Linked DNA regions of Homo sapiens. The protein of the gene in region 2 purifies or fractionates together with the protein of the main gene of each other region. This does not show direct contact. Each region holds a gene or a part of one and is shown on either strand. Other genes may lie near its edges. The genes, in order: PACC1, ZNF843 and CELA3A.

Region 1 (3,653 bases), on a different chromosome or scaffold from region 2:
TAGGGCTCATGACAGGGCCCTGTTTAAGACTAACCCAAGACAGTCTTCTCCGGCCTAACTTCTGGCCAGTGATGGCCTAGTTGACTGGAGTGTGTCCTTCTGCTCCAGATGAGCATCCCGAGCCACTGGGATACAAGAAGAAAAGACTAGCTTTTTTTACTATTTATTTTTATCTCATCCTTTTAACATTTCTATTTTTGAATGTTTAAAGTGTATATAACACTAAGACAATAATAGTATGTTATATCACCTGCAGAGTTATATGTATATGGAGTATATGATCAAAAAGTTTTTACTAATGGGAAATCTGATCAAAAAGCTTTCAGCCCACTGGCCTAGCAGCCAGGAGATACACCTGGCATCTCTCGCTGTGACACCTGTGAGAGCTGAAGAGGACCTTAGGAAAAGGATCAACATGCACACTTGGGACCACTGTGTCTAGTCTCTCTTCCCTGCAAATAATCAATCTGCTAGGCCACTGCCAGCCCCTCAAAGTGCTGCTAGATGCAAGACATCAGACACAGCTGGGCGAGTTACTGACCTCTCTGCAAGCCACAATGATCTCTGCCCCACACATGCATTCCGTGAGGACTGGCCGGTATGTGCGCTGCCTGCAGAAGCACACACAGACTCCCTGGCATAGCATATGAAGCCCTCCATGGGAGTCCCTTCTCATCCTGACCAAGGCCTACTCACCCTTAAGGCCCTGCTCAAAGGAGCCTTCTCTGCAAAGCTTCCCTCCACCTCAGACTCGAATGTGGAAAAGTCACCAGCAGTTTCAAGCAAACCCAGAGCCACCTACCTCCTGCCGGAACTCCACTGCTTCCCGCCCATCCTCCTCCTTGGTCTTTACCAGTGACATCTTGACCCAGGTGCGGAAGCCCCCAGAGAACTTCCAGCTGGAATAGGCACTCTCACAGGCCTGCATGAAGCCTACCCTGTTTGGGCTTGGAGGAAGGAAGGAGAAGGAAGATCCAGGTCAATGCAGGTCTGGCAGCAGGAGTCGAAGCCCCCACTGCAAGCTGGTTTCTTTGCTGGCACAACCAGGATGCTGCCCACTCCCTGCCTCCTCTCCAAATTGTGATTGCCTCAACAGGGCTGTCAGTCACCAGCAAAAGCAAGGCCCATCCCTCTTTTCTCTCCATTTGGTTTCCAAATGGAGGGGTAGTCACTGGCCTCAAGGCAGGAACATGATCCTTGAAGCTCCCAGTGGGAGAAATCTTCCTCCCTCCTCCCATCATTCCTATCGATGGCTACCAAAGCTGTCGGCAATGAAGTTGGCAGAAGCTCCCCAGAACATGGCGCTCACAGCTCCTCAGAGAACTCTGGACTTCAGCAGAGCCTGAGGAAGCCCTCACCAGCCTGTCAGCTCCCATGGAAGGCCCAAAGAGGGGAAGAGGGTTCCTTGGGGAGGTCTCAGCCAGATGGGTCACCTACAGCATCAGCCCCAAGACGGTGCAGATGCAGCAAAATCAAAGCGAACATAAAAACAAGTAAAAACTGCAGCAGCATACCGAGGAAGCTCACGAAAGGAGCGTGGAGTGGGGGTGGGATCCCGGGGAAAGTCTTCCAGGAGGAAGGCAAGATGGCCAGCTTGAAGCAGGGAAGGGAGAGGGAATTCTAGGTGGCAGAAAGGGTGGAAAATGCTAAGGCAGAGGCTCCGAGCTCTGGGGTGGAAGAACAAAGCAGTGGTGGTGTGGAATGGAGGCAGCTCGCTGCATGTCCAGCTGGGGAGCAGCCTCCCTGCCCCTGTAGCTGCCTCCCTGCTTGCTCTGAATGGAGCCTCTGGGCTCAGCAGGACCTGGTAGGAACTGAGTCCCTCTCAACTCAGGCACATGAAGAAAATTCTCCTGCCCTCTAGGCTCCACGGTGTGACCCCAAAGCAGTGTGTGTGGAGCAGACAAGAACTTTCTGATGGTCAGGGGACATTCATCACTGTAAATCGAAGACTAAGAGAGGTGGCAGAGCTTATATCCTCATACCAGAGATGCAGTAGACCCTTGAACAACACAGGTTTGAACTGGCTGGGTCCACTCACGTGCGGATTTTCTTTTGCCTCTGCCACTCCTGAGACAGCAAGACCAAACCTCCTCCTCAGCCTACTCAACATGAAGGCGATGAGGATGAAGGCCTTTACAATGATCACTTCCACTGAATGAATAGTAAGTATATTTTCTCTTCCTTATGATTTCCTTTTTTTTTTTTTTGGAGTCTCGCTCTGTTGCCCAGGCTGGAGTGCAGTGGCGCAATCTCAGCTCACTGCAAACTCTGCCTCCTGGGTTCAATCGGTTCTCCTGCCTCAACCTCTTGAGTAGCTGGGACTACAGGTGCCCGCTACCACGCCTGGCTAATTTTTTGTATTTTTAGTAGAGATGGGGTTTCACCATGTTAGCCAGGATGGTCTCGATCTCCTGACCTCGTGATCCGCCCACCTTGGCCTCCCAAAGTGGTAGGATTACAGGTGTGAGCCACCACACCTGGCCATGATTTTCTTAATAACATTTTTTTTCTCTAGTTTACTTTATCGTAAGAATACAGTCTATGATATATATAACCACGCAATATGTGTTGTTTATGTTATTGGTAAGGCTTCTGTCAACAGTAGGCTGTTAGTAGTTTTGGGGGTCAAAAGTTATACACAAATTTTTGGCTGCATAGGCAGGAGTGGTTAAGTTTGGTAACCCCAAACCCCAAGTTGTTCAAGGACCAACTGTATTTCAGGCAAACATACATTAAGCCCGCACTAAGGGCAAGATGTGGTTCCTGTGCACACTGTGGGGGAAACCAAGGAACCACACAAGAACTTGCTCTCAAAGGGACTTACAAATCAAAGGCAACTTCCCCTACTCCTCAGCAGCCCCAGGCAATGGTGAGACCAAATGATCTCTCTAGAACCAGCCAGCACTATGTGCATGGAGAGCCAGCATGCTCCTCCACACCAGATTTGCTTAACTTTGTGATAAGATGTTGAGTGGACCGGCCAAGCTCATGAGGTCCCTTCCTGGGCCAGTGGGTCATCTGAGAATGCCCCTTCCCTTCCCTGCCCTCACCCCTCCGTCTCTAGCCTTGGGACATACACAGCTGGAATAAGATAAAAAGTAGACAGTAAGCCCACTGTGAACTCTAAAAGCCCACCTTTGCAGGAACTCCTGGAAAGAAGAGAAGAGGAGGTAATCAATGGCGCTGAAGTCCTCACTACTCTTGTTCAGGCGGAACTGGAGGAAGACCAGCTCCCGCTTTTTCACTTCCCGGGGCCCCTGGACAATCAGGGCAGATTTCTGCAGAGAGAAAAAGGACAGAGTCTCAGTCCTGGGAGAGTACACAGAGGCCTCTGGGTCTGAGGGCAGAAGTACTGACTGGAAAGCCCATAGCTCCTTGCCCAGTGGTCTCCAAAGGGACCACTAGCCAACAACAGGACTGGGCTGGGACTCATGCTCATTCCTGGGGAGTTTTCCCCATATGATGCCCAACCAGAGCTGAATGCAGCTCATCCTCTGTCCACTTTTCTCATTGGTTCTTTGAGTTATGGAAGCTCTTAATTTAGCAAGGATGATCACTTTCATCTGTTATGTGTGCCAATCTTTTCTTCCAGTCTGTCATTTTTCTTTTAACTTTGTTTCCAATGTCATTTGTCCTATGGAAACTTTAAATTT
Region 2 (2,581 bases):
GCTTAGCCTATCTGTGCTGACACTTACTGAAGTATAAGTTATATATAAAACACACCCACTTTAAGTGTACAGGTTGCTGGTTTTTGGTGAATGTGTACACGGGCATAACCATCATCACATTCAGGGTGCAGAACTTTGCCGTCACCCTCTCATGCCCCGTGCAGTCAGCTGCTCTCTCCCTGACCCAGCCCCAGAGAACCACTGGTCTACTTTCTGCCCCTATGAGTAAGTTTTGCTTTTTGTAGAAATGGAATTTCACAGAAATTGAATCATATAGTATGTATTCTCTTGTGTCTGGCTTCTCTGGTTTAACATAATTTTGAGATTCATCCATTGCTTGCAGGTAACAGCAGTTCCTCTTTGTTGCTAGTATTCTGTTACATGGGTAAACCACACTTTATTCTTCCACCCATTGATGGACATTTGGATGTTTCTATCTTATGCCTATTATGAATAAAGCTGATATGCACATTTGTGAAAAAGTCTTTGTGTGGACATATGTTTTTATTTTCCTTGAGTAAATCCTAAGAGTAGAATTATTGAGTCATGTGGTAAGTGTACATTTAATTTACTGTTAACCAAAACTGGTTTCCAAAATGCCCAGGCCATTTTATATTTCCCCAGCAATGTGTGAGACTCCATATCCTCAGGCAACAGTTAGCACCTTCAGTCTGCTCGATTTTAGTGGGTGCATAAGGGCACTCCTTGTGGTTTTAATTTGCATTTCTCGGGTGACTGATGATAGCACATCACTTTTTTTGTATCATTATACTTTTAAGTTCTAGGGTACATGTGCACAACGTGCAGGTTTGTTACATATGTATACATGTGCCATGTTGGTGTGCTGCACCCATTAACTCGTCATTTACATTAGGTATATCTGCTAATGCTATCCCTCCCCCCTCCCCCCACCCCACAACAGGCCCCGGTGTGTGATGTCCCCCTTCCTGTGTCCATGTGTTCTCATTGTTCAATTCCCACCTATGAGTGGGAACATGCGGTGTTTATTTTTTTGTCCTTGGGATAGTTTGCTGAGAATGAGCACATCACTTTTAAATGGTAGCTCACTTCTAGGGAAGGAAGGAGAGCGATGAGTCAAAAGAAGTTCCACTGTTTTTGAGCTTAGGTGTCCAAGAGAATAAAACTGGTGCCACCAACAAAAGTGAAATTAGGAGTCAGTGATTTTTTGGCATAGGGGTATTAAATTTGAAGTGATGGCAGGATGTTAAGGGGGAAATAACTGGGTGGCAGCATGCTTTGCAGGCTTGGAGCTCAGTGGGAGGTCAGGTCCTGAGATAAGAGCCAAGTATCCGCTGAGAGGTGAAGCACAAACGGGGAGAGAGAGAGAGATGAGACCCAAGGATCAAGCCAGGGCTCAGAGTGGCCAGAAGCATCTGTTCCCCAGTCCCCATTTCCAAGTAATGGAAAATCCAGACTGACAGGCCTAATAGGCCTAAAAATAGATAAAATTAGCCCACTTATATATGAGCCACTGGAATACTTTCTAGTCCTATTGCAAACTCTACTCTTGGCTACTTTGATTGTTAAAATTGTAAATTAAAAGTTATCTATACCCTTTTTAAAAAAGAGTTTCAATATGGTTTGTGACAATCAGTTAATTATCTTTGTGGCCTGAGGGGCCCCCTTCTTTTAATCACCTTAACCAATAAAGCAATAATGTCTTTCTGAAGTTGATTCTTTTTGATGGTTTGTGTTTGGATGTTCAAGGTTAATGAGGAAATGATCCTTACCACGCTTTTGTAATTTTAATACAGACAGGGTCTTGCTTTGTTGCCCAGGTTAGTCTCCTGGGCTCAAGGATCCTCTGGCCTCAGCCTCCCAAAGTGCTAGGATTATAGGCATGAGCCACTGCGCCCAGCCTCTTGCTACACTTTCATTCAGGATAAAGATGGTAATATCCAAGACTACTGAAAGTCTTATAACCCCAATCCAAATTTTAAAATAAATCTTACTATTAAGAAGCATTGATTGGCCATGTGCAGTGGCTCACACCTGTAATCCCAGCACTTTGGGAGGCTAAGGTGGGTGGATCATGAGGTCAGGAGTTTGAGACCAGCCTGACCAACATGGTGAAATCCTGTCTCTACTAAAATACAAAAAAAAATTAGCCGGCAATGGTGGCAGGCGCCTGTAATCCCAGCTACTCGGGAGGCTGAGGCAGGAGAATCGCTTGAACCCGGGTGGCAGAGGTTGCAGTGAGCCGACATAGCTAGCACCACTGCACTCCAGCCTGGGTGACAGAGCAAGACTCCCTCTCAAAAAAAAAAAAAAAAAAACATTGATTATAGGAGGCCGGGCATGGTAGCTCATGCTTGCAATCCCAGCACTTTGGGTGGCCCAGGTGGGCCAACCGCTTGAGCCCAGGAGTTTGAGAGCAGCTTGGGCAACATGATAAAAACCAGCTTCTACCAAAAAAAAAAAAAAAAATGCTGGGCCTAGTGGTGTGCAACTACAGTCCCAGCTACTTGAGAGACTGAAGCGGGAGGATCACTTGAGCCAGAGAGGCAAAGGTTGCAGTGATCAGAGATCGTACTACTGCATTCCAGCCTGGGCAACAGAA
Region 3 (3,653 bases), on a different chromosome or scaffold from region 2:
CTGCTTGGGAGGCTGACATTGGAGGGTTGCTTGAGCCCAGGAGGGCAAGGCTACAGTGGGCTATGATGGCATTACTGCACTCCAGCCTGGGCAACAGAGCAAGATCCTGTCTCAAAAAAAAAAAAAAAAGAGACAACGTCTTGCTGTGTCGCCAGGCTTGGGTGCAGTGGCAAAAATCATAGCCACTGTGAGCTTGAACTCCCAGGCTCAAACAATCCTCCCACCTCAGCCTATCAAGTAGTTGGGACTACAGGCGAGTGCCACCATGCCTGACTAAGTAAAAAAAGTTTTTCTGTAGATGGGCATCTCACTATATTACCTAGGCTGGTCTCAAACTCCTAGCCTCAAGCAATCCTCCCACCTCAGCCTCCCAAAGCACTTGGATTATAGGCAGGAGGGACTGTGCCCAGAACAATGATGGTATTCTTAATGGTTAATTATAACTTTAGAACCACAGAATTGACCTGCGTTAGAGGTCATGGGACCAGTATCTCCTGCTGTGCTGATGCGGAAGCCTGAGGACCAGGGAGACACAGTGACTTGTCCCAAGTCATGTCAGTGTGTGAGCTGAGACTGCAACCCGGGGGTCCTGACTCCCAGGCCTGGGCTCTGTGTCTGGACTGCGCTGATTTCCTCCAAGTCCTGCCTGGCCTGGAGGCTGAATGGGGCAAGCAGGCAAGATCCTTCCTCCACCTTCCAGGCAGTTGGCCCCATTCCAAGGTCCTGCACACCCAGCACCACCTCGGGCAGGTAAGAGCTGACTCACGTTGCAGCCGGAGCGGATGTACCCTCCAGCACACACCATGGTTTTCTTCACGGTGGAACCCCACCAGTTCCACCTGGAGCAGTGCTTATAGTCCACCACGGGCAGCCGGGCCTGCTGCAGCTTGTCTGGGAGTGGCCCATTGGCTGCAAGGATAAAAAGCACCGAGTCAGGGGTCTGGGGGCACACCGCTAGGTGCCCCAGAGGAAGGGGGCATTCAAGGCCCACAGTTCTTCTGCCCTGATGAGGACTCTCCTCCCACCCGCTAAATGGTCCTGCATGCTTTGTGCACCATTACATCCCTAGCACGTGGCACACAGAAGATACCAAAACATGTGCAATTGACCACATTCGTGTTTTGGAGGTTGATGGAAGAAGGCTGCAGCTGGAGAGAAATGGGAGAAAAGTACAAGGTCCGGTCTTGGTGTTACCTTCAACCTGCAGCCCCCAGGCCCTGTCTTTCTGCCACTGTCTCTGTGGCCAGCTAGAGAAGTCAGCACGTACTATAGAGACGGCCCCAGCCGGTGATGTAGCAGGGTGTCTTGTTGGGAAGGATGTCACCAGCGGGAGGGAGTGAGGCGAGCTGGACGGCATCTCCCAGCTGGGCGCTGCGTGAGAGCTTGATGAGGGCGATGTCATTGCTGGGGAGGAGGGAACAGTCACGGGGCCTGGTCCTCCAGCCGGCCCAAGTCCTACCTTCTAGCCGTTGCTCCAGGCTATTCCACCTCTGAGATGCCCCAACTTCTTTACCCTCCAAATCCACTCTTTCATCATCATTATTATTATTATTATTATTATTATTGAGACAGAGTCTCGGTCTGTTGCCCAGGCTGGAGTGCAGTGTCACAATCATAGCTCACTGCAGCCTCCTGGGCCAAGGGATCCTCCTGCTTTCACCTCCTGAAGTGCTGGAATTACAGGCATGAGCCACTATACCTGGCCCAAATCGTTCTTAAGGCTGAGGAATTTTATTTATTCATTTATTTATTTTTGAGTCAGAGTCTCGCTCTGTTGCCCAGGCTGGAGTGCAGTGGCATGATCTTGGCTCACTGCAGCCTCCGCCTCCCGAGTTCAAGTGATTCTCCTGCCTCAGCCTTTCCAGTAGCTGGGATTACAGGCTCATGCCACCACGCCTGGCTAATATTTGTTAAGATTTTTTCATACACTTGAAAGGCATAAGATTGTCTCCTTGGCCTTCACACCACCCAGGAAGCCCAACTTCATGGTCACCTTTTGACAAATGGCAAAACTAAGGCCCAGAGAAGGCCAGTGACTTGCTCAGGCCATACACAGAGTTAATGCCAGAGCCTGACTCTCAGCCCAGTGCTCCTCCTTTTGCCCATAGTGCTGGGAGCCCAGGATGCACTGGGTGAGCCATCTATTGAATGGAGAAACCCTCGGATATGGGGGAAGGATGCCAGAGGAACCCTGAGCTCTGAAGCCACTAGCCAAGTGGCCTTGGCAGAGTTCCTGCCCCTCCCTGAACACTGCCATCCCCTCTGTAGGGAGACAGGTTTGGTGGTGATGGTCCTTAAAGGCTCTGCTGGCTTCAATCCTCAGTGTGTGGGACCTGGGCACAGGCTGCTGGACTCAGCTCCCCTGTCCCTATGTCCCTATGTCCCTACGTCCCTACTCAGAGTTGGAGCCTACTCAGACTTGGCTGTGGGTCATGGAGGGACAAGTAGAGGAGCCCCTGGGTTCCAGACCGGAGCATTCACTCACCCACAGGCCACACACGAGCGGTTCCAGAGTGGATGCACAAACAGCTCCTCAGAGTTGATGGGGATCACCTGCTCGGGGCCCTCCTTCACAGCAAGGTTGTACTCACCCAACACCACCTGGTAGGTCAGATCCCTCCTGCAGGCAGAGGTGAGGTCAGTCGGGGCCTGACTGGCTCACCTCCCTCCTTCCCCATCATCACCCACTCTCCCCCGCTGCCCAGGGCCACAGGCAGGGACAGGGTAGAGAACTCACGAGATGCAGTGGCCGGCAGTCACAACCCAATCGGGGGCGATGAGGCTACCGCCACACGTGTGGTAGAAGCTTCCACTTTTCTCATACTGCAGGGAAACCTGGTGGCCCAGGAGGAAAGGGCCTCAGTGGGCTGGGCCCCACCATGAGAGTTGCCACCAATGGCTGTATAGGTTGTGCACTGTGCAACTCTAGAGGGCGCCATTCACATGGAAAACGAGAGCACCCACTGAAATATGCAGCATACAACCTGCGACCTGGGCAGCTGCCCGTGGTGGCCCTATCACTTTTCCATGGGGGTCACATTCTGATTCTCCAAAGCCTCCCCACACCAGCACTATGACCTCCCTGGGGACCCCAACATTCTCTACCTTCTGTCTCTTAACAGCCCTTGAAGGCCCTCTGTTCTATCACGCACCCCTCGCCCTGTGAGTTTTTTTTTTTTTTGAGATGGAGTTTTGCTCTTGTTCCCCAGGCTGGAGTGCAATGGTGGCAATCTCAGCTCATTTCAACCTCCGCCTCCCGGGTTCAAGCGATTCTCCTGTCTCAGCCTCCACAGTAACCGGGATTACAGGCACCTGCCGTCGTGCCTGGCTAATTTTGTATTTTTAGTAGACACGGAGTTTCACCATGTTGGCCAGGCTGGTCTCGAGCTCCTCACCTCAGGTGATCTGCCCACCTCGGCCTCCCGAAGTGCTGGGATTACAGGCGTGAGCCACCGCGCCCAGCCCCCCTGACTCTTTTGAACCTCAGCTCTTTCAAGGCCTCTTGAGCCTTCTGAAGCACAGCTCACCCTGATGAGTTCTTTGCCTCTCTTCCCATTTCCTACACATTCTGATTTTCAAAAGCTCCATCTAGACCAGGGTTAGCAAACTGTGGACAGTGGGGCACATCAGGCTTCTGGTCTGTTTTTGTAATA

The links.
Region 1: the proteins of ZNF843 (region 2) and PACC1 purify together in Homo sapiens (co-immunoprecipitation; one large-scale study listed by IntAct). This does not show direct contact.
Region 3: the proteins of ZNF843 (region 2) and CELA3A purify together in Homo sapiens (affinity purification with mass spectrometry; one large-scale study listed by BioGRID and IntAct). This does not show direct contact.

The regions. Positions count from the first base shown.
Region 1 is NC_000001.11:212,376,760-212,380,412, forward strand, and holds part of PACC1 (proton-activated chloride channel), read right to left. Parts: intron 3,279-3,653; coding exon 3,136-3,278; intron 948-3,135; coding exon 803-947; intron 126-802; exon of another isoform or gene 35-125; intron 1-34. UniProt on the Homo sapiens protein: Chloride channel gated by pH that facilitates the entry of chloride ions into cells upon exposure to extracellular acidic pH. Involved in acidosis-induced cell death by mediating chloride influx and subsequent cell swelling.
Region 2 is NC_000016.10:31,437,336-31,439,916, reverse strand, and holds part of ZNF843 (zinc finger protein 843), read left to right. Parts: intron 1-2,581.
Region 3 is NC_000001.11:22,004,629-22,008,281, reverse strand, and holds part of CELA3A (chymotrypsin-like elastase family member 3A preproprotein), read right to left. Parts: intron 2,836-3,653; coding exon 2,738-2,835; intron 2,621-2,737; coding exon 2,486-2,620; intron 1,405-2,485; coding exon 1,268-1,404; intron 910-1,267; coding exon 767-909; intron 1-766. UniProt on the Homo sapiens protein: Efficient protease with alanine specificity but only little elastolytic activity.